Linked DNA regions of Homo sapiens. The main gene of each other region encodes a partner of the protein of the gene in region 2 in a complex. Links are inferred from orthologs where the notes say so. Each region holds a gene or a part of one and is shown on either strand. Other genes may lie near its edges.

Region 1 (6,998 bases), on a different chromosome or scaffold from region 2:
TTCAACAATAGATACCACAGTTCCAATAAAAAGAGGGCTACAAGAAAACTAAGTTAACACATATTTTCAAAAACAATGTCACAAATCAACATGACACACTACAAAAGAGTTGCAAATACCTTTTGTTAGAAGTTTGTCCAGTTCTAAAAGCCTTCATCCTTTGTGCCCCGGGTTGGCAGTCAAGCATGCTTCCGACTAAGCTCAAAGTACAAACTTAAAACTTACCACCTACTCATCTACAATTATTGATTATCAGAAGCTAGGAAACCACAAGAGAAATAAAAATAATCTTGTAACAGGACAGATGTATTATTTCATTTCAATAACACTGAAGTTTCATTTGGCTAAATATACTTCTATAGTCTATTGCAGGAGATTTAATTTCACTGCTACTTATAACTACAAAATAATTATATTCAAACTTTTAATTCTCTACATCCCTAGTTTCAACAATACTTAGCATGCGCCTCTCCCCACCTCACCCTATAACAAAAACGAGTATCTGCAATAGTTTTGCTAACACATTTCAAAATACCCTTGGAGAAACTTGCCTCCTCGTTTTCTATCTTGGTGGTGGTGTTATTAAAACAAGCATACAGACCCTCATTTATGCCAATTTTTATTCCAGTCATTAACAGGAACAGTAAGCTCAGTCTGATAAATTTTAATACTGGAAATACACTTTTCTATATCATGTTGGTAAAAGAAATAATCAGATAACAGTTTAAAAAACCCCTCTTCCATACTCTGAAACCTGAACACTGTTAAATGCTTCATTTTTTTTTAATTAGCCACCTTATTTTTTTTTAAGTTGGTTTTTCCTGAAAACTTTTAAATGACTGTTCTGGTCTGTGGGAGACTCAGGACTCCACAGGACTCTAAAGTTACATGCTATACTAAGCTTTCTAGCACAGGTTTTTTATTTTTCCCCACCCCCAGGACTTCAAACTTGAATAGTCTCAGCATTCCTTTAATCCTACAGAATAGACTTCTGAAAGTTTTTCAAGTTACTGTTGCAATAATCTCAGGGCCTTGTCCTTGTACACGGCCTTCAGAACAAAGGTTAGGTCAAAGTAATGAATATTGGGCGCAAATTAACCAAATTTTGTCTGGTGTGAAAGGACATCCTCAAACCTTTAAGGGTACTTTTTTTTTAATCAGAGATTTTTCAAAGATTTAAATATAAAAGTAAAATAAATTCCGCACAGCCTTAGTTCAAACGAAAAGCCTCCAAAGTAGAAATTTATGTCAATAATTTAAGCAGAGAATAAACCAGCAGTATAACATAAATAACACTTGAGACTATATTTACTATTTCTTAGGATGAATACAAGTCAACACGAAGACATCTGAAGGTATTGAATGTTCGTTCACCAAGTGACAAATACTGAAATGGCTTCCTAAATTCCAGACAAACTACAACTTAGCGATCTGAAAAACATTAGCCTAGACTTTATGAAAGGAAATGCTGCCGTCTCTTCAAGTTGATGTCTAGCCTAAGCCACCATTATTCATGATACAAAGCTCTCATTTCACTAAAACCACTCCTCGATTTCCTTTTGCCGACCTCTGCATACCAGCAGCCTAGTCTTTCTTCATTCACCACTCACAAACTCGAGGGGTGGGGGGAAGACCACAGATGTCTGGAAGATACAAAGTAGGAGACAACGCTCCCTCCAAAAGGGAAGAGAACGAAGGCAACAACTACATACACCCAACTGCCAAAGCTTTCAAGCTTGGCAGATTCAGAAGCAGGCTATAGGAACTTAACTTCGAAAAGTCTCGGTTCAAAGTCCTCTCTCCAGACAAAACACTGAAAGAAGTTGCAATGCTTGAATTCCATTTGGCCAGCTTTGGAGCGAAGGAAAAATTCACTCCGCTGAAAAGAAAACGTGCTCTATAATTCAATTTTAGCTGCCATCAAACTATTTGAATAAATTTAAATTATTTCTACGAACAAAATTCTCGAAGCGGTCTGAGTCAGAGGCTGAATCCTGCAGTTCACTTGGTAAGAAACAGTAAGCCATCACCTTCGCCTTCCTCCACCCCCTTATTTCACCAGGGTCTCATACCCACTACCATAAATCCATAAGACTCCCAGTACATTATCCACTGCTTTCACTCACCTGCATAGTACGCTAAAATACAGGTGCAAGACATGGATTTTTTATGTGCTCACCCTACTGACGCATCGCACCCGCTGCACTTAGAGTTTAGTTGCTCTAAGGTTTAAAGTTGCTTCGATTCAAACTCACATAGCCAGGGCATTAAAAAAAATAATAACACTTCTATTCTTAAGAATGAAAGAGGAAATCTTAAGAGAAAGTCCACTGGTCCGATCCCCAGGACTGATGGGACTTAGGGTGGCGTCTCTGCCTCAGCGCCCGAACCCCAACTCGCCGCAAGAGCTGAGAAGGCGGAGCCCCCCGTCCCCACCCCGCCCCCCACCCAGGGCCCGGCGCATCCCGAGGCACCGGGTCCCTCCCCCAAACTCGGCCAAGGCCAGAGCCCCGGACGGAAACCACAGACCCCCACCCCCACCCCCACCCCGCCTGCCATCCGGGCTCCTGTACGCGCCCCCGCGGCGCCCCCTCCCCGCAAGCGATGCCCCCAGGGCCCCAGAGAGGCAGCGCGACCGGAACCCGGGCCCGGCCGCCGCCCTCCGCGCCCCGGGCGCGGCCCACCCTCACCGTCCCCCACCTGAGCTCCCCGCTCCCAACCCCAGGCCTCCCGGCTGCGCCCAGCCCGCCGCCCGGACCGCGCGCCTGCTACGAAGTTTGGCTCCGAGAGGAAGCGGGAGCAGCCCCGGAAGGATAAGGAAAGGAGCGCCCAAGCACCTCAGGGGAACAGGCTCCTCCCGCCGCGGGAGTCCGACCGTCCTCGACCTGCGGTGGCGGCTCGGCGGGGACTGAAGCTGCTCCTCAGACCTTCCTCCGTCTCCGCCTCCCCTCGCTCTCCGCTCCCGGGGCCGGGCCAACGCTGCTGCCACAGACCGAGAGGCTTAAAATGGCGCCGCACAAGGAGCTCTTATAAGTCGCGCAGAAGCCGCTGTATCCTGCCGCCACCGGCGCAGCGCGGAGCGTTCCGCCGCGCGAGGACAAGGGGCGGGGCGCGAGGGGGCGGTGGAAAGTAGTCCCCGCGCCGCCCAGCAGTCTGCTGCCGTCTGAGCGCCCCGGGCCGGGGTGGGGTGCCTGGGCACCCCACGGACGCTCCCCGGGGTGACGGCTGGCGGCTGCCCGCTGCGCGGCCTGAGGGCAGCCCGTGAGGGCGCTGTGGTCTGCATCGGGGAGGCCGGGCCCCCGCGGCCTGGGTTGGGGAAGGTGGCCCTGGTATCCTCCCCTGTCCCAAGCCCGACGCCCCCGCCCCGCGCGTTTCCCGAACCGGGAGAGCAGCTGCAGGACTCGGCGCGCCTTTCCCGCGGCCTGCGGAAGGTGGCATCTCGGCCCCGGCCTTCGAGTACCGCTCGGGGCGGCCGGGACAGGTCCTGGGAGGGCGGAAGTTCGGGGCCAGGGCGGCGGCAGGGGCTCGGGTTCAGCGCCCGCCCGTCTTGGGGCGCTCCTGGCCCCGCAGCTGCCCCGTCGCTGGTCTGCGGGTTCCCGGCCGGGCGCGGGTTAGGGGGCCTCGCCGACCTTGTGGTCTGTGCCGCACACTCCCTGCTGGACCTGGGTCGCAGCCCAGTCTCACAGCACCCCCAAAGCCCCCCACTGTCCGGATGGTGGATCCCACCTCTCAGCAGGCTGTTCAGCTTGAATTTCGACCTGAATCACCGGGCCGAGCCGCCTTCTGTCCCCACTCACGAAGGCTGTGAACTCTCCGTAGAACGGGCGCCAAGCCCGCAATTCAACAAGTCCTTAGGAGTACCTACTGTGAACAAATAACTAATGGAAATGGATTAGCTCCAGAGCGCTGTCAATTAGGTTAATTCTTATAGATTCCATTTTTATCTGGTTCCACTTGTCACTAGGTATCAATAGATTTATTTGTGGGGATTTTTCTTTGGAGAAGAAGATTTTTACGGTATTACTTATTTGTGAAATCCAAGTATGTTTATAGAGAAAGCTATCGATTAAGCAGCCTCCAATTTTTTAACTAATTTTCTATTTAAAAACGTTTGTAATTCATTTCAATAGACTGAAAAATGTTTCCCATTCTAATGCAGCAAAATTGACGTTTGTCGAAGCTGCAACAAGTATGATCGATTCAGTTTCTCTAGGCTATTGTTTGTGCTTATTTTTCCTCCAAAACATTGGAGAGAGTACAAAAAGCAGCAGTGAAAGTTACCTCTGTGCTTTTATCCCAGGACTACAATTAATACAAGCAAACAATAGGTCTTAACACATAGATGCAGGCGGAAAACCCACTTATTCATTCACTCATGGAGGTAGGATATGTAGTTTAAGGCACAGCTCATGTTTCAGGGCCAGCGTATTCTTTAAATAACTTTTATTTTTGTCTTAAAGATATTTTACTATATAAGTGGTAATGCCAACTGCCGTCTGTCACCATAGCACATGTGGGCCACTGCAGTGGAAAAAGTCTACACACTAAGATGATGTTCAGTGAGATCCATTGTCTAGAAAGACCTTCTCATTTGTATCTTTCCTACTAATTCTGTAGAATCTAAGTGTAGCTATTGGTTGTGGTCACAATTCAAAAAGATTGAACCGAAAAAGGTATTTCATCAAAACCGTGTTTCTAATATAAACTCAAAAGTATAAATGGCGTTTTCAGGTACTGATTCCTAATTTTAATTGTCATTTGCAGAATTAAGGAATATGCAATTGATTAAAGTCATACATTGAAAATCAGACGACAGATTAACCACTTTTACAGGGCTTTTTTTAAAAAAACATGTTTGCTTTTTCTATGTGCAGGTTTTTTGTTTTTGAATAAGGCACTCTTGAAATTGGTTAAGAAATATCTGCACCATTAGAAGATCTAAAGGATAAAAACGTTTCTATATTTGTATTTCTCTGTTCCATTACCAAAATAATGGAATCATTTTTCTATAATTTAAATACTTTAAATTTAGAATTATGATTTTTAATCCCTACTGACACCGTAAACAAATACATTTTATTAAAGAAAATGTAAAATTTGCAACAATGCAGCATGCTGTTTTTCCCATCATATTAAGTGTACTGAAGAATTACTGGTTGACTAGCATTAAACCAAGTTAGTTAAATTTAACATTGCTCCTAATTTTTATTTGCATGTTTCATAAAGCAGAAATTGTTCTAGTTGTCTCACCAAAAATAAGAGATGAATAACTTCTGTGAAATGAAGACAAACACTATCATTAAATCAAAGAAAAATACATTATCAAGATACATGAGTTTGGTAAAATAAGTAATTTTGTTAAATAATTTTTTTGAATTGACCTTGGACAATACATTTCATAAAAACAGTTGGTTATCTGTTTTATGTCTTTTCCTTCTAGAGCCAGTCACCCCGGGTTTGACATAAATTAATTTTATAAAATGGCGACAGACAAGTGGTTCTAATTTTTAGGCTGTGTTCTTAGAAACAAAAGTGTCTCCAGCTAGTTTAAAAGAGAAGATATTTCTTTTCACGCTATCAGGCCACTGGCATATAAAGCAGTGGTAGACTGAACCTGAATGTAAGGCATCCCTTCGCTAAAACAGAGGCTTTTGATTACCTTTAAGAGAGGAAAAAAAAAAAAAAAAGCCAAGATTATTTCACACTTCAGACAGAAATATGAATCACAGAAATATGCCAGTATTGTAAAGAAGGTTCGTTCACTTTTAGGATACTTAACTCTATCAAATCCATTAATTAAACATTTATTGAGCATCTAAGACAATGAGCTTCCCTTAGAGAGAGGGAAACGGATGACTGGCTCCATTTGATTAAGTCTCTTAAATTAATGTAAAATTGTAACTGTTAATCCACCCTATTTAAAAAGAAGCAGAAACGGTAGAAAAAAAGCTGTGAAAGTAGGGTGTGGTCTCACTTGGACTCTACATCCGAATCCCCTCGGAAGGCTCCCTTCCCAGCAGAAAGGTAAGAATAATATTCCATGCATTTAAAAACAAACAATCCCAACTCTCCAAGAAGGCTTGTTAAAAATATTTCTTAGGACAATGTAAAAACACTGGACAACAATCAGGATCAGCTTTTCATTTAGCAGTTCATCAGGTGGGCTATTTATGGATTGGGACTTTTGATTTGTAATACATCATCTCAGGGTTCAGTGTTATCTTTTGATTTCTTTCCAGCTGAACAGGCTAAGTAGTTGTAAATACCTCTTGTCAGACTACATGGTTGGCTATTCTCGCACACAGAAGTAATCTAGGAACCCACTGGGCAAGTTCGGCGGAAAGCCACTGTGGAAAGCTTGCAGCTGATGTATACTGCAGAGCGAGGGAGGGGCGGTGAAGGTGGCGGGAGGCAATGGCCATGGTGGTTGCTATGGCCTGGTCACTTCAGTTATGTCAGGAACACCCTACATGCTTGGAGTTATGTGTACTCGAGGCCTTCATTGGTTTGCCAGACTAAGGAAGTACATTTTAATGGCTACCATACAAAGTATGAAGGAGAAGCAATGGAGTCATCGTCCATGATATTCAAAGAACATAAAGGTATATATGTTTCTCAATGTTTCTAAGAACTCAGACAAGTACCGCTGCATTTCTAAGAAATCATGTTTCGGAGACACACACCCGCAACACACGCACGTGCACACACACACACACCCCATTAAAAATTTCAAAATGGTTGCAGATATTTCATTCACAAGAAGGTTAAAGGCGTTTCCCATCGCAAGAAGGATTAACTTACCGGAGGATTCTGGGACTGCAGATGTATACTGCGGCAAAATCCTAAATTCATCGAAAAAATCATTTCTGGACTCCAGCTGCTAAAAATAATAGAATTATAGTAAATCATGGATAAGATTAAAACAAGCCATTTTCACCTTCCAAAGTATTCAGAAAAAAAAATGATTCTTTTCTTTTAAGTCATTTCTTAAACAATGC
Region 2 (7,023 bases):
TACAGAGAAAAACTGTAACTGAGAAAGAGCTTCTCTTGATCAGGCTTAAAACACCAAATGAAATGTATTGTACAATTTCCAGGCGGTAGGAACCGTATTTTTGTACCTATCAGTGTGAGGGAATAGGGGGATGAAGACGGGGTGGCTGAGAAACACAGTGCTGAGGATGAAGAAACCTGGGCCCATCTAGGCACACCAGCCTTCCACAGCACTGGCCACATGGCTTCTGGCTGCTCTCGGCCCCTGCCCAGAGGGGGAGAGAGGGAACTGAGACATAAGAGACAATAGCAGAGGTTAATTTTGGCTACCAAGCGATGGAAGATTCCAGGACATACACATCCGCTCTAGAGAATCCTTACAAATCTATGCTGGGATTAATAAGAACCATTTTTAGAGATGAGTGGCAAAAGTGCTGTGGCCCATGAAACTTACCCTGAATGGACCAGGCTGGGCTGCCTGAGCCCCAGGAGGAGCTTGGAGACCCACCTGGCAAGTCTGTCACTTACATGGTCTGCAATGGTGCGGCCAAGCTTGTCCATCCTGGATCCTGCCTCAGCAATTTTCTTGGCAGCACTGATGACATCCGATGTATTTTTGAGTGGTCCTTTACCTCTGAGAAGAGGGAAGAGAACAAGGATTATTGTATGTGAAGCCCCTCACAGTTGGAGTAGAAAAAGAAGATTGTCCACAAAGCCCCATGGCCTGGGCTGTCTGAGCCGCTGCGCAGGTGACCTGTGGGGAAGAAAGTAGCCCCTGTGCAGCCTGGTGGGGCCGGGGTGCTGCTCACCGGGTAAAGTCTGTCATCTCCATCATAATCATGCACATCTGCTTGGCCAGCACAATGATGTCATTGCCACTGTCGTCCCATTTGGACACTTCAGCATCCAGCTTGCTCTTTTCTTCCTGGAAGCTGGCCACCTGTTCCGCAATCTTCGCTTTTTGCTCCTGGGGAAGCTGAGCCATGATCGCCTGTGATCAGAAGCACAAAGAGCTCTTACATAAAAAGAATATGAAGTTCTCAGAGTGCATTAGCCAAGAATATTTCCAACAGGCAATCTGTGGCATAGGTAGGATAATGCTTTAATAGGTTTCATTTCGCCTGAAGGGCTATTTCTCTCATTTTTTGCAGAAACTTATGGCAGCCTGAATTTCCGACCCACTTTTGAGCACAAGTTTTAGTGTGGAAGGAAACAGCGAGGGGTGGAAGGCTAATGTGGAAGCTTTGGAATCACACCTGTGCAGGGACAGAACCTGCTTAATTCTTATTAATATAAGACAAGAAATGAGAGAAGGGGTTGATGAAAGTGTGGAGCCCTTTCCCTGGTGGGCCCTGATGGACATTTCCAACTATTCAAGATGAACTGAAAGTGGCTTTAGAATGTACACCTGAAGAAAGAGGGCTGAGAGATACCGCTGGCACTCAGGCCATACTTGAGCAACACCTGGAGGCCTGCTGCCCACCTCCAGCCCACAGACCTACGGCTGGGGAGCTCCTCCCTCTCAGCTTCCCTAAGTGCTCATGACTGAGCAGGACATAAGGCAGGGATGTGCTCGCTGTTCACGACAGATTTCCAAGGAGTGAAATCAAAGACTCCTTAGAAATATTTCTTGGCATCCTCCCCAAAACATAAATGCTATTGATTGAAGATTTAATGACTCAAATGAATGCAATGGCTCTGACTGGCTTTCTTGAATGTACCACTGTTATTTTTTAAACCCATGAATAATTAAATAGTTCATACCCATAGTATCGAGATGGACAAAGGCAGCAATCTTTTTCAAATTTCACGATCCTTTCAACAAACACTGCATTGACTAAATCTTAGCCCTTCCCTGACCCAGGGCTCTATCATAAACTAAAGCTCAGGGCACTGCAGAGGAGGCCCAGGACCTGGTCTGCCTCTAGCTGAGGAGGCTACATTTGACTAGCAGGTGCCACAACTTAGTTTAACTTCAGTCTACTGCCAGAGAGACAGAGAGAGAGAAACGGTGTTCTGAATACTGAGGGTGTTTTCCTGGAAACAAGAAAGGGGACAGGGAAAGTCGGCAGCACAAGCTGAACTGCCCCACGGAGCGCTTCCTTACCCGGGCACTCTGGCCAGCTATCAGCTGATCGTCTTCTGTCTGGACGCTCGTCCTGCTTCTGACATCAAAATCTTCTGTCTCAAAGTCAGAGTCATCCAACTCCTCAGGGGTCTGCCACCCAGACAAAGATCACAGGTCAGACACATCTCTGGGCCACCAGCCCCCAGCCACCCTGAGCCTCTTGGCCAGGTGCACGGAGGCCCAGAATTCTGGATTTTAATGTGCAGTGTTCTGAACAGTATGGTGAATAAAGTCAAAATCACTCAGCATTTGTCTCGAGCCTCTGCTTCACTGGTGCACACGCTGGGCTGCCTGGCCCACAGCAGGCCTGGGCTGGTTTCACTGTGTGTGGGGCTCAATTGCTATCACTGAGTCAATTCACTATTTCTTTGTAAGACATGATTGTTTTTTTTTTTCCTTTGAGACAGAGTCTCGCTCTGTCACCCAGGCTGGAGTGCAGTGGCGTGATCTTGGAATCAATGCAACCTCCGCCTCCCGGGTTCAAGAGATTCACCTGCCTCAGCCTCCCAAGTGGCTGGGATTAGAGGCAACATGCCACCATGCCCGGCTAATTTTTGTATTTTTAGTAGAGACGGGGTTTCACCATGTTGGTCAGGCTGGTCTTGAACTCCTGACCTCAGGTGATCTGCCTGCCCTGGCCTCCCAAAGTGCTGAGATTACAGGCGTGAGCCACTTGTGCCCAGTGACATAAGGTTTTTACTTCCTAATTTACTTCCCCAACACCGGCATTTTAAGACAAAGATGAGAACTGTCCTGGGTAGAAAAGGTACTGACTTAAAAATAGAGGTGTTTTGTATAGTATTAAGCGGATTTGTATAACTTTCCTACTTTATGACAAAAAGAAAATTAAATAACTGGGCCTTCTGTTAGGGTACCAAGGCTGCTTGGAGGAGTAAAAATAGGCAATGTATTTTAAAGTATTCTTTTGACTTTCATCAAAAGAAAAGAGGGGAGAATATGGCAGGTGAGGGCTGAGTAAATACCCAAGGGACTGATTACTGGTCCTAGCTCTTTGCTTTAATTATGAAATAAAATTCTTATTTTGTACCAACTACCAGCCTCTCATGATTAGCTACTGACTTGAAACATAATGTTGTCCTCTGGCAGTTATCAGTAAGGGGGCAGCAGGCAGAACAGCTGGGGTTGGCGCTCAGCCCAGCCGGCTGGCCTGTGACAGGAGGGCAGTGAGGCGAGTCTCTCGTCTGTGTACCAGGACATAGTCCAAGCCCAGCCCAAGGACTTGCAGTGAGGTTCAAACAAGAAGATATGCAAGAAACATTCTGGAACCACCAAGAACGTGCTGTGCAAAGGCTGGGCCTGTCCCTTGATGAGGTGAGAACAGTGGACGCTCACGCAGGGGACCAGACAGCATGTCGGTGTGAGGTCCTGGAGGCCGATGGACTCGGTGGCACAAAACACAATGCCAGCACTGACAGTTTTAACGCTGCAGTCACACATGCCTTCGGGACTGGCATGCAATCAATCAGTTAAGGGGCTTTTCAAAGGACCACCTCCTAACATCATCTCTACCTCCCCAGCACCCCATCGCAGACCCAAGAACCGTTCTTGCCAAGAAAACCGAGTACTCTCATTCATTCATTCATTCATTCATTCATTCATTCATTATCTCTCTGCCAAGCACTGTTCTGGGCCCTAAAGATACAAAGTGACAAACAGACAAAAATTCCTCTCGCATATTCTAATGGAAGAAATGACAACAAAGTAAGCAAATGAATTATATGACACATCAAAAGTGACCAGTGCTATGAAGAAAGCAGTGATGAATAAAGGGAGATTTTAATTCTATATGGGTGTTTGGAAAAGTCTCACGAGAAGGTGCTCTCAAGGAGGGGGAAGGGGGGGCGGGTGGCAGCATAGAGGCCGTGGGGAAGGGGCATTGGCCCAGGGAACTGCGTGAATAGCAAGGAGGCCACAGAAGGGGGGCTTAGCTCACTGCCCCCATGTCACCGGCTTGCCTGGAACCCCATGAGTACAAGAGGAGATCAGCAGGAAATAAGGTTGGAGAAGTGACAGGTTCCAGTCCCAGAAGGCCTCGTAGGCCAGCATAAAGAATGAGTGACGTGGCGGCCTGTGGAGACGCTGGCACAGAGGATAACATGATCTGATTGAAGCTTACAGAAATCGCTCTGGCTGCCCTGTGGCTCATGAGACTGTAGGCACCCAGGATGGGAACAGGGAACCAGCTGAGTGGCACCTGCATGAACCCGGGTGAGAGGTGCTGGTGGCTTAGACGAGGGTGAGAACATGTTCAGGTTCTCTACTGTGAACGGAGAGCCAAAAGAATTCACAGATAAAGCAGATGTGAGGTATGGGACAAAAGGGAAATAAAAGATTCGAGGTCTGGGCCCGAGCAAGGGAAGACGGAGTCACTATCAACTAACATGTGCTGCCTGGGTGGAGCAAGTGAGAGGGAGGAGGCAAGGTGCGCAGACAGGTGTGGAACTTAGGAGAGTCGGCCTCTAGACAGGACTCTGAAGAGGTCAAGGACTTCCCAGCAGGCCACACCCGTGTTTCACAGGCTGAGGAGATGGGGAGAAACCAGCCAAGGAGACTGAGAAGGGGTGTGGGTCAAGAGACTTTTTTTTTCCCCCTAAAAATGGGAGAAATCATCATAGGCTTGGGGAAAGGTACAGGAGGCAGGGGGTGAAGAAGCTGGGATCCTAGTACAAAGACGTGCAAGGGATGGCCTTGGCCAGAAGCACCGAGAGCAATGCCCATGGTGCTAGGAGGAAGGTAGAGCACACAGACATGGGATGCAGAGGGGTGGACGCACTAACTGCCTCAGTATCCTCAACGAAATCGGCAAGTGGGCCAAACAGGACAGGGGCACAGGTGTGGGTGGGTGGGTGGACGCCTGTTGCAGGGCAGCAAGGGCGCACAAATGGCCGCGGCTTCTGCGGCTCCATCAGCGTGGCTGTGGCCATCTGCACTGTGCTCAGGAGAGCAGGATCTTGCCAGGACTGCACCTTGCAAGGCAGGTGTGAGGAAACAGCAGGGCAGAGGAGTGAGTATATTCAACTATGGACTCAAAGCTAACAAAGGACTGAACCAAGGACACAAGGGGCTGAGTGACACATGGGGAGGACCAACTGACTGAAGACCCCACAGTAGACTCAAAGGCTCGCTGGGAGTTGCAGGACTCGAGGGCGCAACCTGAACAATAGATCTAGGCTGCTGGGGATGACAAAGACAATGGCAGGCAGTGACAAAAGCTGAGGTACAGCTATGGCCGTGAGGTTGAGGTGGAGGAGGACAAGACATCAAGAAACTGAGAGGCCCAGGGGCTGGATGATTCTTGAATGAAGACAGGAATAGTTGTCAGAGAGCAGGACGGTATGCCGGGAGCTCAATCACAGATGCCATAGAGGCCCCTTTCTCCTCTGCCCCTGCGACAGAGGCCCTCCAGGCACTCTGGCTATGGGGAAAGGGGCTCGGCACTTGGCCATGAGCCTAGGAGCATCACCTGGGGCCGCTCCTCCCCCCAACACCCTGGGGTTCCATCATCCCGTCTGCCTGCAGCCCCTCCGAAGAGAGGGGCACTTCATGTGAACAATAACTTGAATCCGCATTATGAAAATACTTCCTTCTCTGATACTAGCTTGAGAACCATTATTTTCTATAATTTCCTGCCTAACTCAAACTGAAGCCTCATGTTGTAGAGACTGTTTATCCTAAATTAAATCGTCAACTCAGGCTAGCTCCCCTTCTTGGCCCAAGTTTGGGCTCTAACTTGCAACTAACAGTCATTTTAGACAACGTAATTAAATATATCTCATTCTAACAGCTTTTAGATTCATGGTTTTAATATACTGCCACCGCATCTGCCGAGTTCTAGAATGACGCATTGCTCAAGTTTAGCAAATGATAAGAAAGAAGCTGTTAAGACGTCTGAAATGCAGTTACTCACCCTTATCATCAGCACTGCTTTCCTGATGTCCCGGATGCCATCATATACCAGGCGGGAAGCATCGATAAACTCATTCTCATCCATGGGCTGGGCAGGGTCCGAGCTGAGGGCTTCCACGGCTGCTTCTACTTGCTCAGTAAAACGTGGCATGACTGTGGAGAAAGAGGCACAGTAGATACCCTGGTCAGCAGGCAGCATCATTCCCCTGGCCCTCCCTGAATCACTCAGCTAGACAGAAAGAGGTGAGGCTTATGATGAGCCTCTGCTTCTACCTGTGTGAAGGGTATTTACAGTTGAAATAAATTAAATGCAGTATTTTACGACTCAAATCATCTTTTTCTCTGCAACAGAGATTGGATGGTTGAGAACTTGAAGTGAGACTAACTTGAAGCCTTGCTTAAGAATGGGACCTACCTTAATTTAGTCTTTACTCACTAATAGGAGATTTAACTCAGAAATTCATCTTAAATCGTGTGTTTAGAATTAGTCCCGTGATTACTCATGAGATACAGATGAAGAAAATATGCTTGTGAGGCCTGAATTTGGCTATGACCAGCTTCTCAGGAGCCCGATGTGCCATGAGACCAAATCTGAGTTCCCAACTCCTCCTTCCTCACCACAGGGCTGGGCTAATGGGGTGGCCTGCCTCACTGAGGCTGCGGTGTGTGCGAGCACTGGAAAGGGAGAGTTCCCGTACCTGTGTTGGAGAGCAGCTTAGTGGCTTCCAGAACCTTCTCTGTGTAGACTCCTGGCTCATAGTTGTCCATCTCTGAGGTGACTACGTGAATGACCCGGGCTGCCCGGCCTCGAATTGCACCAGCTGTGCGGTCCAGGCCATCCACATCCTTCTCTTGGAGAGCAATGACACATTTGTTCACATCTTCCAAAATGTGATTCTCTGGAGAACAAGCAAAAAGTTGAATGAGGAAGGAGGCTTTCTATGAAAAGGTGGCAACTGTAAGCTGGCATCTATCATTTATTGTTTGCTT
Region 3 (7,755 bases), on a different chromosome or scaffold from region 2:
AGGTCCAGCATTCTGATTGCTAAAAACTTCTTACATCTATTGAATCATGTTCTCTTCATCTGTCTTGATTCCCTGGAATCTACATAAAGCTGCTGTCATCAATCACTGAAGTACAATCCACAGACCCATTCCCACTGCCCACCCCCACCCAACCACCCTCAGAAGTCAATTAATTTGCTTTGGCACTGCACTAATACGCCAGAGGGAAGAGAATTCAGGTCTGTTTCCTGATCAGACTCATTGTGGGTAGGAGCAGGAGTGAGGGAAGGATGGGGACAGGATTTGATCTGGACTATATTCAAATCCATGCAAACATGGGCTACTAAAAAGGACTTCTGTGAAGTATTGGAGATCAAATTAATGTGCTGTCTGACTAAGGAAACTCGTAACTCTTGATATGGCAAAATGTGACCAAGAAAATTCTCCAAACCTCAAGCAACTGGTACCAAACAAGTTATCCACTTTCAGACAGGGTTTTCCCCCTATTATGTTTATTGGTGTATTCCCAGTGCCTGGCCCAAAGCAGGTATCCAGTAAATAGTTTTAGCATGAGCTCTGAATGAATATTGCCAACCATTTTCACTGTGATTAGAAAAACGGCTGGGTCGTTACTGAACTGTGAACCTAATAGTAGACAGAGGCTCTCTAAGAGAAGATGACGTTTGTCTGGGCAAGGACATATCCATGGGAATATGTGTGCCATGGTAAACGATGTGCAGAGTCAGGGAGGTAAAGGGAGATAAAGGTTTTCAAAGGAAAAAATGAGAAGGATTATATCATTGTTTTGAAATAATTATCTTTGGCTACAAAGATCAATAAGAAGGGTGACACTGGTCTGAGTTTGCACAAAAAGTTGCTGGGAAGATTTCTTCGAAAAAGTATTTTTTGTGTAAGGTTTTAACGGCCTTTGTGCAAAGTTGTTATTTTTGCAGAGCTTTTGTGATAGTTTTAGTTATCAAGCCTACAAATGTGAGAACCCCCTTTTCATAACCTTCTTTGTGTCTATATATCAGGCTTTGTGCCTGTGTGTGTGTGTGTGTGTGTGTGTGTTTTAACATAAGGAACTCCATTCTGATTCTGACAACTTTCGCAGTACCAAGGGCTTTTACGCATTTCCTCATTCACTGGTACAACCACTGGCTCAGATAAATTCAGTTACTAGCTCCATTTTCAGGTGAAGAAAAATAGGCTTAACAAGGTTATGTTAAAACCAGTGCACTGACACCCAGTGCACTCCCAGGTCAGCTCAACCTGAACCTTTGGGGGCAAAACCCAGGCACTGAGATCCCTTGAAGCTCCCTAGGTAAGTTCAACTTGATCCAAGGTAAGGAACAAAGTTAAGCTGGCCTAGGTCCCCAGCGGGCTGTGAAGGAGCCTAGGTCAGGACGCCAAGCAGCCCAGTCCAGAGCTCACAGTTACCAGCCACTGGGCTGCTTCCCACCCTCAGCTGGTATTCAAAGGAAGAAATGATTCCCTCTCCCTACCTACAGAAAGCCAACGAAGCAGATCATAACCAACAAGCGCATGCAACATTACCTCTGTCCACTCTAAGTACAAACAGAGCAAGCCCATGTGTTTCGAATCCTGACTCCACTAGTTTGTATTCCCATTTAAACAGTGGCAGTTGGGGGCAATGGATTTAGCCATTCCATCCCCATGGGTTTGCTCAAATTGCCTTGGATCCAGACAACTGAGATTTCCTCAATCTTATGTAAAGTGTGAACAGAAGTATCATTATAAAACTTGGCAGGGCGCAGTGTCTCAAGCCTGTCATCCTAACACTTTGGGAGGCTGAGGCAGGCAGATCACTTGAGGTCAGGAGTTTGAGACCAGCCTGGCCAACATGGTGAAACCCTGTCTCTAATAAAAATACAAAAACTAGCCGGGCATGGTGGCGTGCACCTGTAGTCCCAGTACTCGGGAGGCTGAGCCAGGAGGTTGCTTGAACCCAGTAGGAGGAGGTTGCGGTGCACTGAGATGTCACCACGCACTGTAGCCTGGATGACGAGACCCTGTCTCAAAAAAAAAAAAAAATTGTGTGTGTTGGCTGGGTGAGGTGGCTCATGCCTGTAAACCCAACACTTCGGAAGGGCAAGGCGAATAAATCACTTGAGCTTAGGAGTTCGAGACCAGCCTGGGCAACATGGTGAAAATCCATCTCTATAAAAAATACAGAAATTAGCCAGCGTGGTGGTAAGTTACTGTAGTCCCAGCTACTCTTGAGGCTGAGGTGGAAGGATCACCTGAGCCTGGGAGGTTAAAGCTGCAGTGAGCCTTGATCATGCCACTGCACTCCAGCCTGGATGATGAAGCCAGACCCTGTCTCAACAAAAGGAGAAAGAAACAAAGAAAGAAAACACGTGTGTGTTGATGTAATCTCACTAAAAATAGTGTGAACTATATAAATTAGTTTTAAACAGGTCCCTTAGCCTGCTCCCACTGTTGCCCCAAACAGACTGGGACCCTTAACTTCCCTTTATATAAATCCAGAGCCCCTGCTACCTAAGCCATTCTCAAGACAGCCAGCCCTGGGTCCCAGCAGGTCACACTCAGTCCCTCTCCCCTCCCTTAGCCTAGAAGGGGCAGGGCCAGCTTGTGCTTTGCTTTCAGTTCCCTGCACCTGAGCACTAGGCTGCAGGCTCAGCTTACCTGCAGCAGCCACAGCAGCAGCACTAGAAGCAGCAGCAGCGAGGGGTGCCTCCCGGATCTCATGGCCATATGGGAATACCCAAGACAGACCCAGAACGTGCAGCTGATGACCAGTCCTCCAAGCTGGTGGTCTCACCGGAGCCACACACCTCCTTCTCAGCCAGCAGCTTCTTCTCTAAAGGTTTTCAGGTCACTTTGGCCCAGATGCTTTCATCCCATCTTGCTCCTCCCTTTTCAGCTTTTCTTGCATTTATCAGAGTGGGGTGGGCTGACTTGTAAGCTTGAACATACGTTTGCCACAAGTAGAGTTCCTAGGAAGGGTGGGGTAGAAACTAAAGCCACCATGGTCCTGCACGTACACAAAAGACTGGCTGGGGTCTGACCTCAGGAACAACAGCTCAGCCAGCGGAAGTAAAACCAGCACCTATCGGAAAGCAGAATTATTTGTTTCTTTGTTTCCTTGTTTGTTCTGGTTTCCAAATAGAAGGTCCAATCATCTCTTTCTATAGCAGGATATGTTAGTGACTATTTTCTATAATCTTATCCTCTTGAACCAAACAAAAAAAACTAGAAAATGACAAGAATGATAACTTTATTAAGGGGGAAGGGATGGGGAAGAATGAAAGAAAAGAAAAATCAACTTTTACTTTCCAAAGCACTAAAAATCGTTATTCCAACAATATCCCAGGGCTCTGGGGTTTTCAAATTATTTCTACTAAAACCTTTTTTAAGCTTAGATTAATCTGCCTTTTTGAGTTTGGAATTAAAGTGGGAGGGAGGAGAGATGGGAAAGAGCCTCCCTATGGACAGGGATCTCTGTGGCAACCCGGGAGTCTTTGCATGAGAATTCTGAAAGAGACAATTTGAGATTATATTATACCAATACTTAAGGTTGCAGTAAGCAAGTTTTAAAACACAATCTGTGATACATTAACCCTGATTACCTTAACATGACCTTTTTATCACATTACCTTGTTTAAAGTAGTAAACAGATAAAATAAAAGGTAAACTTTCTTTGCTTGTTCTAGATATTGGCTTAGGCAAGGATTTCATGACCAAGAACCAAAAAGCAAATGCAATAAAATCAAAGATAAATAGCTGGGACCTAATTAAACTAAAGAGCTTTTGCACTGCAAAAGGAACAGTCAGCAGAGTAAACAGACAACCCACAGAGTGGGAGAAAATCTTCACAATCTATACATCTGACAAAGGATTAATATCCAGAATCCACAATGAACTCCAACAAATCAGTAAGAAAAAAACAATCCCATCAAAAAGTGGGATAAGGACATGAATAGACAATTCTCAAAAGAAGATATACAAATGGTCAACAAGCATATGAAAAAATGCTCAACATCACCAATGATCAGCAAAACGCAAATCAAAACCGCAGTGCGATACCACCTTACTCCTGCAAGAATGACCATAATCAAAAAATCAAAAAACAGTAGACGTTGGTGTGGATGTGACAATCAGGGAACACTTCTACACTGCTGGGGGGAATATAACATAGTACAGCTGCTATGGAAAACAGTGTGGAGATTCCTTAAAGAACAAAAGTAGAACTACCATTTGATCCAGCAATCCCACTACTGGGTATCTTCCCAGAGGAAAAGAAGTCATTATTCGAAAAAGATACTTGCACATGCACGTTTATAGCAGCAAAATTCACAATTGCAAAATCGTGGAACCAACCCAAATGCCCATCAATCAACTAGTGGATAAAGAAAATGTGTATATGCGTATCTATATGTATATATACACATATATGCGTGTATATATGTGTATGTACATATATACACATATATGTGTGTATATATGTGTATGTACATATATACACGCATATATGTATATATACACATATATGTGTATATATGTGTATGTACATATATACACATATATACATACATATATACACACATATATGTATATATATACATACACATATATACACACATATATGTATATATATACATACACATATATATACACATATATATGTATATATATGTGTATATACAGATATATATGATGGAATACTACTCAGCCATAAAAAGGAATGAATTAACAGCATTTGCAGTGACCTGGATGAGATTGGAGACTATTATTCTAAATGAAGTAACTCAGGAATGGAAAATCAAACATTGTATATTCTCACTGATTTGTGGGAGCTAAGCTATGAGGACACAAAGGCATAAGAATCATACAATGGACTTTGGGGAATTGGGGGGAAGAGTGGGAAGAGGGTGAGGGATAAAAGACAACAAATATGGTGCAGTGTATACTGCTTGGGTGATGGGTGCACCAGGATCTCACAAATCTCCACTGAAAAACTTACTCATGTAACCAATATGCCACCTGTACCCCAATAACTTATGGAAAAATAAAATTAAAAAATAAAAATAAAAAAGAACTCATCAAAAATAAAATATAAAATAAAAATCTCCCAATTAAAAAAAAAAAACTTTCTTTGCTTAACTGAACATTCATAGCTCTGAGATGCTGCTGAATATTTTAATTTGAATAGTTTATTTTTATTGAAATTAATAGCTTATTATTGAAAAGAATAATAAATACAACTTTAAAGTCTATAGATATTTCCTGTGCATAAAGAGAAACTGAATACCTTGTGCCTATTTTCAAAGTGGATATTTCTATAATGATAGCCTATTTTTAAAAAACTGATTAAGTTAGAATCACTAATTTAGAATATATAAGTCAGGTGAGCTAAACCATGTTAAATATATGTGAAAAAACCACGTCAGTTGAGCACTCCCTGCTGCTAGAATAGCGCTGGGGACTAAAATATTGTTGCTAGAAAGGCATTAGCCTCACAATGTTCTAGTCTGGGCGGAGCTGGGGGACAACAGTGAAGGATTCCACTTTCACATTCGTTTTAAGTTTAAAAGAAATTGGTATTTTAAAATTAGCCGGGCATGGTGGCACACACCTGTAATCCCAACTACTCCGGAGGCTGAGGCAGGGGAATCCCTTGAACCCGGGAGGCGGAGGTTGCAGTGAGCTGAGATCACATCATTGCACTCCAGCCTTAGGCAACAAGAGTGAAACTCCATCTCAAAACAAAACAAAACAAAAAACACCATAGGAACTGGTATTTTAATATATTAGAAACAAACAAGTTTTCAACATTCTCAAGCGTTTAAAATAACTAAGCAGAATGCCAGTTCCCCACACGGCAACCCTACTTGGGTAGGCCACGGGGCCTGGAACTCAGCTGGTGATTCTGGGCATCACCTGCTGCACATCTTGGGTGAGCCTGAGCTTGAAGATGTCCCCACTCCCTTTCTATTCTGAGCATGTGATCATAGTGACAATAGTCTAGCGCTCCTTTCTGTGTCCTTGGAAGTACAGTAATACTTTATAGCCACATGGTGGCAGCTCCCAGCTCCCTGTAAGCTGACAAGTGAAGAAATGAGATTGCTCATGAGATAAAAGTTACTTGATTGCAAGGGAGGTATGAGCTACAATTACCTACCCAGGGTCAACCTTCTCATGTTTTTGAGGAGTGCCCCCAGCCACCTCCAGTTCTCACTGTTCTTTTTTTAGTAATGATGATTGCATCATGAGGCATCCCCACCCGGCTTGGATTTCTGCGTGGACAGTGGTCTGGCTGGCCAGGCCTCATGCCCAGCTGAAAGGAGGGGAACTTAGGTGGACAGTGGGACTGAGGGAAGATGACAAATGCACCTGACTCTGCCTACCTTTGGCATTTTCCATATGGATCAAGTAAACACCAGAGAAGTAAAGCGCTAGGCTCAAGCCTTCTTTCCTGGCTGGGGAGGTGAGAAGGCTGGCATTCGATGCCTCCTCTGCAGAGGTGAGCCAGCCGCAGTGAAAGGCTGGGAGAGTGGCCTGTTACAGAGGACAGGCCTTAGGCTTTCCCTTAGTCTCTCTTTCTGTCACCAACGCTAGGGGAGGCAGAGCCTGGAAGAGGGAGGGAGCAGAGGTGTCCCAACAGCAAAGCACCACCATGCCTTAGGATCTCAGTGCTGGGTTGGAAGGTGAGGAGGGGCTGCCCAAGCCTCCCCTGCCCACACACCCACCTGGGAGTCCAGCCCACCCAGGGTGGATGGAAGAGATTAGATTTCCATCAAGGCTGACATCGAAGTTTTAAGCTGGGCTGGTTTTACTGACTGACGTGACTGGGTAATGATGAGCCCCAGTTGTAACTGAGGGATTGAAATGGTTTGGTTGAAGGCTCAGATTAAGGAAGAATAAAATGGCTCATGCTTATATGTCCCCTGAGTCAAGACCTTTCTATATTCACTAACACAAAAATAATTTTCCAGCCAATACTTCTGAATTCAATTCCCGTTTCTTCATAGTCACAAGAAAAGTTTAATTTCTCAGAACACTCTTGAGAAGGGTTTTTAAAATAATCAGGGAAGAGTTCTGCTTCCAGTAGTGGTGAAGTAGGTTCAACTCTGCCATAGACATAGCAGCTATTAACATAATATAAAACAGGGCTGGGCGCAGTGGCTCATGTCTATAATCCCAGCACTTTGGGAGGCTGAGGCAGGTGGATCACCTGAGGTCAGGAGTTTGAGACCAGCCTGGCCAACATGGTGAACCCCTGTCTCTACTAAAAATACAAAAAAATTAGCCAGGTGTGGTGACACATGGCCAGCTACTTGGGAGGCTGAGGCAGGAGAATCGCTGAGGTGGAGGTTGCAGTGAGCCGAAATCAAGCCATCGCACTCCATCCTGGGCAACAAGAGTGAAACTCTGTCTCTTTCTCTCTCTCTCTCTCTCTCTCTCTCTCTCTCTCTCTCTCTCTCTCTCTCTCTCTCTCTATATATATATATATATATATATATATATATATATATATATATATATATATATATATATAGTATAAAACAGCTACCCACAGTGGAGGCCCTGGAGGGTGAGCATGGCAGGCAGAAGCTGGAAGGATACTGATGCCTGGAATAGGCCACAGCTGGGACTGCTAGGTGGCTAGACGGATGGACAGAGTAGACACAGCCAGGTGGCAACTGTCTGGTTATGAGAGTAAGCATGCGGGTATTCACTGTGAAGCTCTTTCCACTTTCGTATATGTTTGATTTTTTTTTTTTTTTTTTG
Region 4 (7,023 bases), on a different chromosome or scaffold from region 2:
TACTTTCATGGAGATTCCACAATGGGAGAAATATGGAGGTTGGGTCAGGTGCTACCTCAAGTTACAAGAAAGACACAAAAATTCGGTAACAGCCGTTGTCTCTGGGGTTTGAAGTGGAGATAATTTTTCTTTGTACAATATAGTATACAACAAGACCCTACATTATTCCCCTTCCCCCAAAATACATTCCCATTGGTCCTCTCTGGACAGGTCTCTTACTTCTCCTTCCCTCCCCTCAATCTCTTTTGTTCATTGGCAATAACCAGCCTCAGGGCCTTTGCACTTCCTACTCCTCATATCTACATGACTCCATCCTCCATTTCTCTTGGTCTCTCTCAAACATACCTTACACATGAGACCCTCCCTGACCACTCTATATAAAATAACCTCACCCCCACCCTGAGACGTTCTTTCCTCCATACTACTCATTCTACTTTACTTTTTTCTCAATAATATTACCACACTCTGACATACTACATATTTACTCGCTTATTATTTGTCTCTCACAACTAGAATGTAAGCTCTTTGAGAACAAACAGTAGGTCTATTTTGTTTATTGTTGTACTTCAGTGTATGGCATAAACAGACTCTCAAATTTCTTTTGAATGGAGATGTTTTACTTCCTTCTTCAATGAATACAAAAAGTTAAATTTTAGAAAAAAAAAACAACTTTCTTTTCTTTTTCTATACTTTTTTTTTTCCAACTGTGATCTTAGTTAGGCCTATGAAGAGGCCTAGGTAGTCTTACCTGCCTATTTGGCTGACCTTCAGCACGGTAGACATCCAAGAGGCCAACTGTGCCCCAGTTAACAAAGTAGTCAATAGAGAGCAGAACAGCAATGAGGTTACAGAACTTCCCCCATTCCAACAAAGCAGGAAATAAATCAGATTGGCACCAATTTCTCTTTTAAAATAGGCTATTTTAAAAGTGTACTGAATATACACCAGCTACTTTATTTCAATGAGATTTACTTCACTTGCAATGAAATGGGAACTGCAGGTGCTTTGATAAAGGTATTGAGAAGTTGACCTAGTTTCTATAACAATGTCTTATGTCCTCAACCATGAGAATATATTTTAGTTTCTTAAAATATGAGCTTCCTAAAACAAAAATCTTTTCTTTTCTTTTTTTTTATTTTTTTATTTTTTTTGAGATGGAGTCTCACTCTCTCGCCAGGCTAGAGTGCAGTGGCGCGATTTCGGCTCATTGCAACCTCTGCCTCCTGGGTTCAAGGGATTCTTCTGCCTCAGCCTCCTGAGGAGCTGGGACTACAGGCATGTGCCACCACGCCCAGCTAATTTTTGAAATTTTAGTAGACACAGGGTTTCACCACGTTGGCCAGGATGGTCTCAATCTCTTGACCTCGTGATCCGCCTGCCTCGGCCTCCCAAAGTGCTAGGATTACAGGTGTGAGCCACCGAGCCCAACCGTGTAACAAAAATCTTTCTTTTTTTTTTTTATTTTTTATTTTTGAGACGGAGTCTCACTCTGTTGCCCAGGCTGGAGTGCAGTGGTGCGATCTCCACTCGCCGCAACCTCCACCTCACAGATTCAAGCAATTCTCCTGCCTCAGCTTCCCGAGTAGCTGGGATTACAGGCGCCCGCCACCACGCCCGGCTAATTTTTGTATTTTTAGTAGAGACAGGGTTTCACCATTTTGGCCAGGCTGGTCTCAAACTCCTGACCTCAGGTGAACCACCTGCCTTCGGCCTCCCAAAGTGCTGGGATTACAGGCATGAACCACCACCGCGCCCAGCCACAAAAATCTTTTCACTCCACAAAGATACCTCCTAATGTGCTACTGCACTACAACATAGAACAACATAGAAAGCATAAATAAAACAGATGATTTACTCCGGAGAAAGTAATTTTTTTTTTGCTCAACTGTCAACTAAACCAAAATGAGTAATTAATCAAGAAATGCAGATGAAATCTAAAAATCAAAGATAAAACCAATCTGAATCACTAGAAGAGATCAGTCTTCTTGGATTACAATTGTATGCCTAAACTAGATCTAACTGAAATGAAGTGGTATCCTAACAGTTGTACCTTTAGCACATGGGTACAAGAAACAGAAATACGTCTTTATGTTAACTGTTAGTGAGGCAAAGCAACGCCCATGAAGACCTAAGGGAAAACCTAAAGGGAAAAAAAGGAAACCCAACCTAAAAGAAAAAAAAGATAGGGGAGGCAAGAGGAGGCAAAGAGAGACAAAGGAAGACACCACAGAGAACAGGAAAGCAAAAGAAAAGGAGAAAATACAGGAGAATTGGTAGAAGAAATTATAGGTAAAATAAATGTGAGGAACTGAATGTGGGAGGCTACAGAGTGCCAAAAGAAATTAGCTTAAATAGCCAGGCAAGGTGGTGTGTGCCTGTAGTCCCAGCTACTCCAGGGGCTGAAGTAGGAGAATCACTTGAGCCCAGGAGTTGGAGACAGGGCAACATACCAAGACTCTGTCTCTCTGTTTTTTTTTTTTTGAGACGGAGTCTCGCCCTGTCGCCCAGGCTGGGGTGCAATGACATGATATCGGCTCACTGCAACCTCCACCTCCCGGGTCCCGGGTTCAAGCGATTCTCCTGCCTCAGCCTCCCGAGTAGCTCAGATTACAGGCATGCACCACCATGCCCAGCTAATTTTTTTTTTTTTGTATCTTTAGTAGAGACAGGTTTTCACCATGTTGGCCAGGCTGGTCTCAAACTCCTGACCTCAAGTGATGCGCCTGCCTCAGCCTCCCAAAGTGCTGGGATTACAGGTGTGAGCCACCGCGCCCAGCCTCTGTCTCATTTTTAAAATAAAAATGTAAAAAAAAAAAATTATTCAAAGAAATTGGCTTAAGTACTATTTAGAACACTAGTTTCATGGGTTCTTAAGTATGAAGAAAAGGGAGGAAAAGAGAAGGAAAATTCCTAGGCTGGAATAAACCCGCAAGTTTCTAGGCAAGGTTGTATCTAACACATATGTATTTCCCACAGACCACAGCTTGGCTTTTCCACATATAAAAGCTGACTCCTTTCTTAGAAGCACACTTCTCACAGGAAGCATTCATGAACTCATGTCAGTTTTATAAATGTCCACAAATAAGGGTTGCAAATACAGAATGATGTCTGGCTGGGCTTGGTGGCTCACGCCTGTAATCCCAGCACTTTGGGAGGTCGAGGTGGGCGGATCACGAGGTCAGGAGATCAAGATCATCCTGGCTAACACAGTGAAACCCCGTCTCTACTAAAAATACAAAAAATTAGCCAGGCGTGGTGGCGGGCGCCTGTAGTCCCAGCTACTCGGGAGGCTGAGGCAGGAGAATGGCGTGAACCCGGGAGGCAGAGCTTGCAGTGAGCCGAGATCGCGCCACTGCACTCCAGCCTGGGCGACAGAGCAAGACTCTGTCTAAAAAAAAAAAAAAAAAAAAAAAAAAGGATGATGTCCACAAATCATACAAATCATTCTGTTTATCTTCCTCCCACTGACACTTCACTTTACTAAAGTTATCCATTCTCATACTACCGTTGTTTTGAACCTCACCCACACAACTCTCCAATATTACCTATTACTAATTTTTTCCCATTAAAAAAATTTAAAAGTTAGCTTTACCCACTCAGGAAGCCCATATATTCTGTAATGCAAGCACCTACATCTACCACAGATTCTCAGGTTTTAAGAGACCTTCGGACGGGCATGGTGGCTCACGCCTGTAATCCCAGCACTTTGGAAGGCCGAGGTGGGTGGATCATTTGAGGTCAGGAGTTCGAGACCAGCCTGGCCAATATGGTGAAACCCCCTCCTCTACTAAAAATACAAAAATCAGCCGGGCGTGGTGGCGGGCACCTGTAGTCCCAGCTACTCGGGAGGCTGAGGCAGGAGAATTGCTTGAACCCGGGAGGCAGAGGTTGCAGCAAGCAAAGATTGCACTACTACACTCTAGCCTGGGAGACAGAGCAAGACTCCGTCTCAAAAAAAAAAAAAAAGACCTTCAAGGGCATTAGTTCAACAAACGAAATTTGAGTTCTTTGAAGCATCCATTCTAATAGCAAACACAAGACATTACTAGGAGCTCTGCATTACTCTATAAAGTTCACATACATTAAATAACTTAAGTGTCACAACAATCTATAAGATGGTTAATATTATCCCCATTTTACAGACAAGGAGGCCAAGGCAGAGAGAGATTAAGCAATTTGCCCTAGGTTACATGTTTCCTCCGTGGCAGTCTAGCTCCCCATCCATACTCTTAATCATTATGTTATGCTGCCTTGCCTCACCATATTATGGAAGTCTCAGATTGGAAATTCCCTTTTTGGTTAGCATATTTACCAAAAAATATAGAATAAAGCATTTGTGGCAACATGTTAACAAATGATACCTAGGCAAATGAAGAGTATACCAGTTACTGTGCTAGAGCAACTTTCCTGCAAGTTTGAAATAAAAAGTTGAGAAGTGCTTTTGTCATCACATCACATCAACCAACCTGGGACATGTTTTGTGAAAGTCATGACCAAATTACCTACTGCTGACCAGCAAGGAAGGCTTTAAGATAAAATTCTGGCCGGGCGCAGTGGCTCAAGACTGTAATCTGGGAGGCCAAGGCAGGCGGATCATGAAGTCAGGAGTTTGAGACCAACCTGGCAAAAATGGTAAAACCCATCCCTACTAAATATACAAAAAATTAGCAGGGCGTGGTGGCGCGCACCTGTAGTCCCAGCTACTTGGGAGGCTGAGGCAGGAGAATCGCTTGAAACCGGGAGGCGGAGGTTGCAGTGAGCTGAGATCGTGCCACTGCACTCCAGCCTGGACAACAGAGCAAGACTCCATCTCAAAAAAAAAAAAAAAGATAAGAAAATTCTTTGCCTCTTTATAATTCCCCCACTATATGCCTGATCTAAATTGTCCACACCACACCAATCAAACTGAAGGGCTCACTGGAGAAGAAGTGGCCCTAAAAACAGGGAACACGATCCCTGAATAAAGTGGTAAATTCAGGCCCCATTCTCAATGCTTAATATTTAATAATAACATGCAATTCCAAGTAGAATTAGGGAAAAAAATTACTTCCGAAAAATACATTAAACAATTAAATACAAATCAATCCATACCCTAATTTCCCCCTCATTAGTTCTAACCAGAACAGTTGTTCTTGCCTTCTTACAATCTCCCTGCCAGGCTACATCAATGCTCTATTGGAAACCTTGGAGGCAGCTGCATAATTTAGGCAGAGCAATCCCTACTTCAGCTTTGTGTGTCATTTAACCCTTCTTTGAGGGAAGAGAACATGAAAGAATATTTGTACTTATTCACATCCTTATTACCTACAGTTCACTCCTGTAGGCAAGTTCCTTGTTAATACCTTTTAAATTACCCAAGAAAACTAATTTCGGTTCTTAAACTCATAAGCTTCCCAATACATGAACAAAATCTAAAGTTTTGTGGCTAAAACAGTGATTTAAAAAATACACTGATATCCAAACATACTTTCTTTGAAACACTGATGTTCAAAACTATCATCCCAAGCTCTTAACGTTTTTATTAACAAGCACAGAAACCATTCACCTCCAACCAGGGCTGAAAGCAGTACTTTTCTGCTGATGTCTTAATATACTCTCCCCTAGAAAATGGCAACATTTAAGGTTTTCAGTGTTGAAGTTCATTATGAAATGAACGGACTAGGATACTTATTATTTATTTATTTATTATTATTATTTTTTGAGATAGGATCTGGCTCTGCAAGCCCAGTCTGGAGGGCAGTGGCATGATCTCGGCTTGCTGCAACCAGTAGCTAGGACTACGGGTACATGCCACCACGCCCAGCTAATTTTTGTATTTTTTGTAAAGAGGAGTCTTCACCATGTTGCCCAGCGATCCACCCACCTGGACCTCCCAAACTGCCGGGATCACAGGCGTGAGCCACCGCACCAGGCCAGATCCTTACTTTTTATACTATTCTTTGTACCACTTGCCAAGAAAGGAACAGGATTAAAGAAAAGCTAAAATTTTAAATCCTCCATTATCTCTAGAAACTTTGCTTAAAAATATAAGGGAGGGCCAGGTGTGGTGGGGCACACCTATAATCCCAGCACTTTAGGAGGCCGAGGTAGGAGGATGGCTTGAGCCCAGGTGTTTGAGACCAGCCTGGACTACATAGAGAGACCCCATCTCCACAAAAATACACAAAAATTAGCCAAGCATAGTGGTGTGCACCCATAGTCCTAGCTACTCAGAAGACTGAGGTGGGAGCACCACTTGAGCCCAGGAGTTTGAGGCTGCAGTGAGCCATGATTTCACCACTGCACTCCAGCCTGGATGACAAGAGCAAGACCCTGTCTCAAAAAAAAAAAAAAAAAAAAAAATTAAGGGAGGAGACGCATAAAAGGTTAAAACTACAGACTACAGTAAAAGTTGCAAAAGTACATTGCAATTTGATTAATCTATGTTGTTTTGCTTCCTTTCAAGCCTTCCCCACAAATCAGTCCCTCACTGATTCTCATCAAATGCCTTATTTAACCAAGGCTTACTGAGCACCTCAGTATGTACCAAACACTAAGACAGGTGCTAAAAAGATACAGAGATAAGACAGTACCTACACCCAAGCTGCTCATAGTCTAGAGGGAAAGACAAGAATATCTGAACTACCTCCTACAAGCCTGTCCCTGCAAGTTGATGATATCCTATCATTCCAAACCACATACCTAACAAATTCTCTGGAAGAAGAAATTTTACTGATAAACAACGTGTGACACAATTCCAGGAAGTTTAAGAAATTAGGACAGCAATGGTGGGCATATGGATATGGAAAGATTCTCGTTCTAAAGATTAAAATAATATCCATTCTAGCACATCCAGCTCCCCATGGGCTCTATGGAAAATAGATCTTTTGCATACATTATCCCAACAAGGGTAGTGGGGAGTTGGAGGGAGTTGGAAATTTAAGTGAGTACTGCCCCTGTGCCAAGATGAAACACTCCTGCCTCTAGCAAGGGCTCGTTTTAGTTCGAGCTGTTGTTTCCATTCTCTCTGGAGAATGGCAGTAT

The links.
Region 1: the proteins of CTNNA1 (region 2) and CTNNB1 are in contact, whole or in part, in a crystal structure (PDB 1DOW), measured with the Mus musculus proteins. The link is inferred for Homo sapiens from one-to-one orthologs. Residues at the interface, in NP_033948.1 of Mus musculus: Ala58, Leu61, Ala62, Ser64, Val65, Gln67, Ala68, Thr69, Asn71, Phe72, Lys75, Gly76, Lys78, Ile79, Glu82, Met104, Ala108, Phe111, Pro115, Cys116, Arg121, Met124, Ala128, Leu131, Leu132, Val135, Leu138, Leu139, Ala142, Asp143; in NP_001159374.1 of Mus musculus: His118, Thr120, Asn121, Val122, Gln123, Arg124, Leu125, Pro128, Ser129, Met131, Leu132, Lys133, Ala135, Val136, Asn138, Leu139, Ile140, Tyr142, Glu147, Leu148.
Region 3: CTNNA1 (region 2) and CDH26 share a complex: the UniProt entries of both Homo sapiens proteins name them as parts of the cadherin:catenin adhesion complex.
Region 4: CTNNA1 (region 2) and CTNND1 share a complex: the UniProt entries of both Homo sapiens proteins name them as parts of the cadherin:catenin adhesion complex.

The regions. Positions count from the first base shown.
Region 1 is NC_000003.12:41,195,510-41,202,507, reverse strand, and holds the start of CTNNB1 (catenin beta-1), read right to left. Parts: upstream 3,004-6,998; 5' UTR 2,838-3,003; intron 2,787-2,837; exon of another isoform or gene 2,701-2,786; intron 2,366-2,700; exon of another isoform or gene 2,127-2,365; intron 2,118-2,126; exon of another isoform or gene 120-2,117; intron 1-119. UniProt on the Homo sapiens protein: Key downstream component of the canonical Wnt signaling pathway.
Region 2 is NC_000005.10:138,924,419-138,931,441, reverse strand, and holds part of CTNNA1 (catenin alpha-1), read right to left. Parts: intron 6,933-7,023; coding exon 6,732-6,932; intron 6,187-6,731; coding exon 6,035-6,186; intron 2,197-6,034; coding exon 2,086-2,196; intron 970-2,085; coding exon 788-969; intron 613-787; coding exon 507-612; intron 1-506. UniProt on the Homo sapiens protein: Associates with the cytoplasmic domain of a variety of cadherins. The association of catenins to cadherins produces a complex which is linked to the actin filament network, and which seems to be of primary importance for cadherins cell-adhesion properties.
Region 3 is NC_000020.11:59,953,690-59,961,444, reverse strand, and holds the start of CDH26 (cadherin-like protein 26 isoform a precursor), read right to left. Parts: upstream 3,023-7,755; 5' UTR 2,719-3,022; coding exon 2,650-2,718; intron 1-2,649. UniProt on the Homo sapiens protein: Cadherins are calcium-dependent cell adhesion proteins. They preferentially interact with themselves in a homophilic manner in connecting cells; cadherins may thus contribute to the sorting of heterogeneous cell types.
Region 4 is NC_000011.10:57,764,780-57,771,802, reverse strand, and holds part of CTNND1 (catenin delta-1), read right to left. Parts: intron 1-7,023. UniProt on the Homo sapiens protein: Key regulator of cell-cell adhesion that associates with and regulates the cell adhesion properties of both C-, E- and N-cadherins, being critical for their surface stability.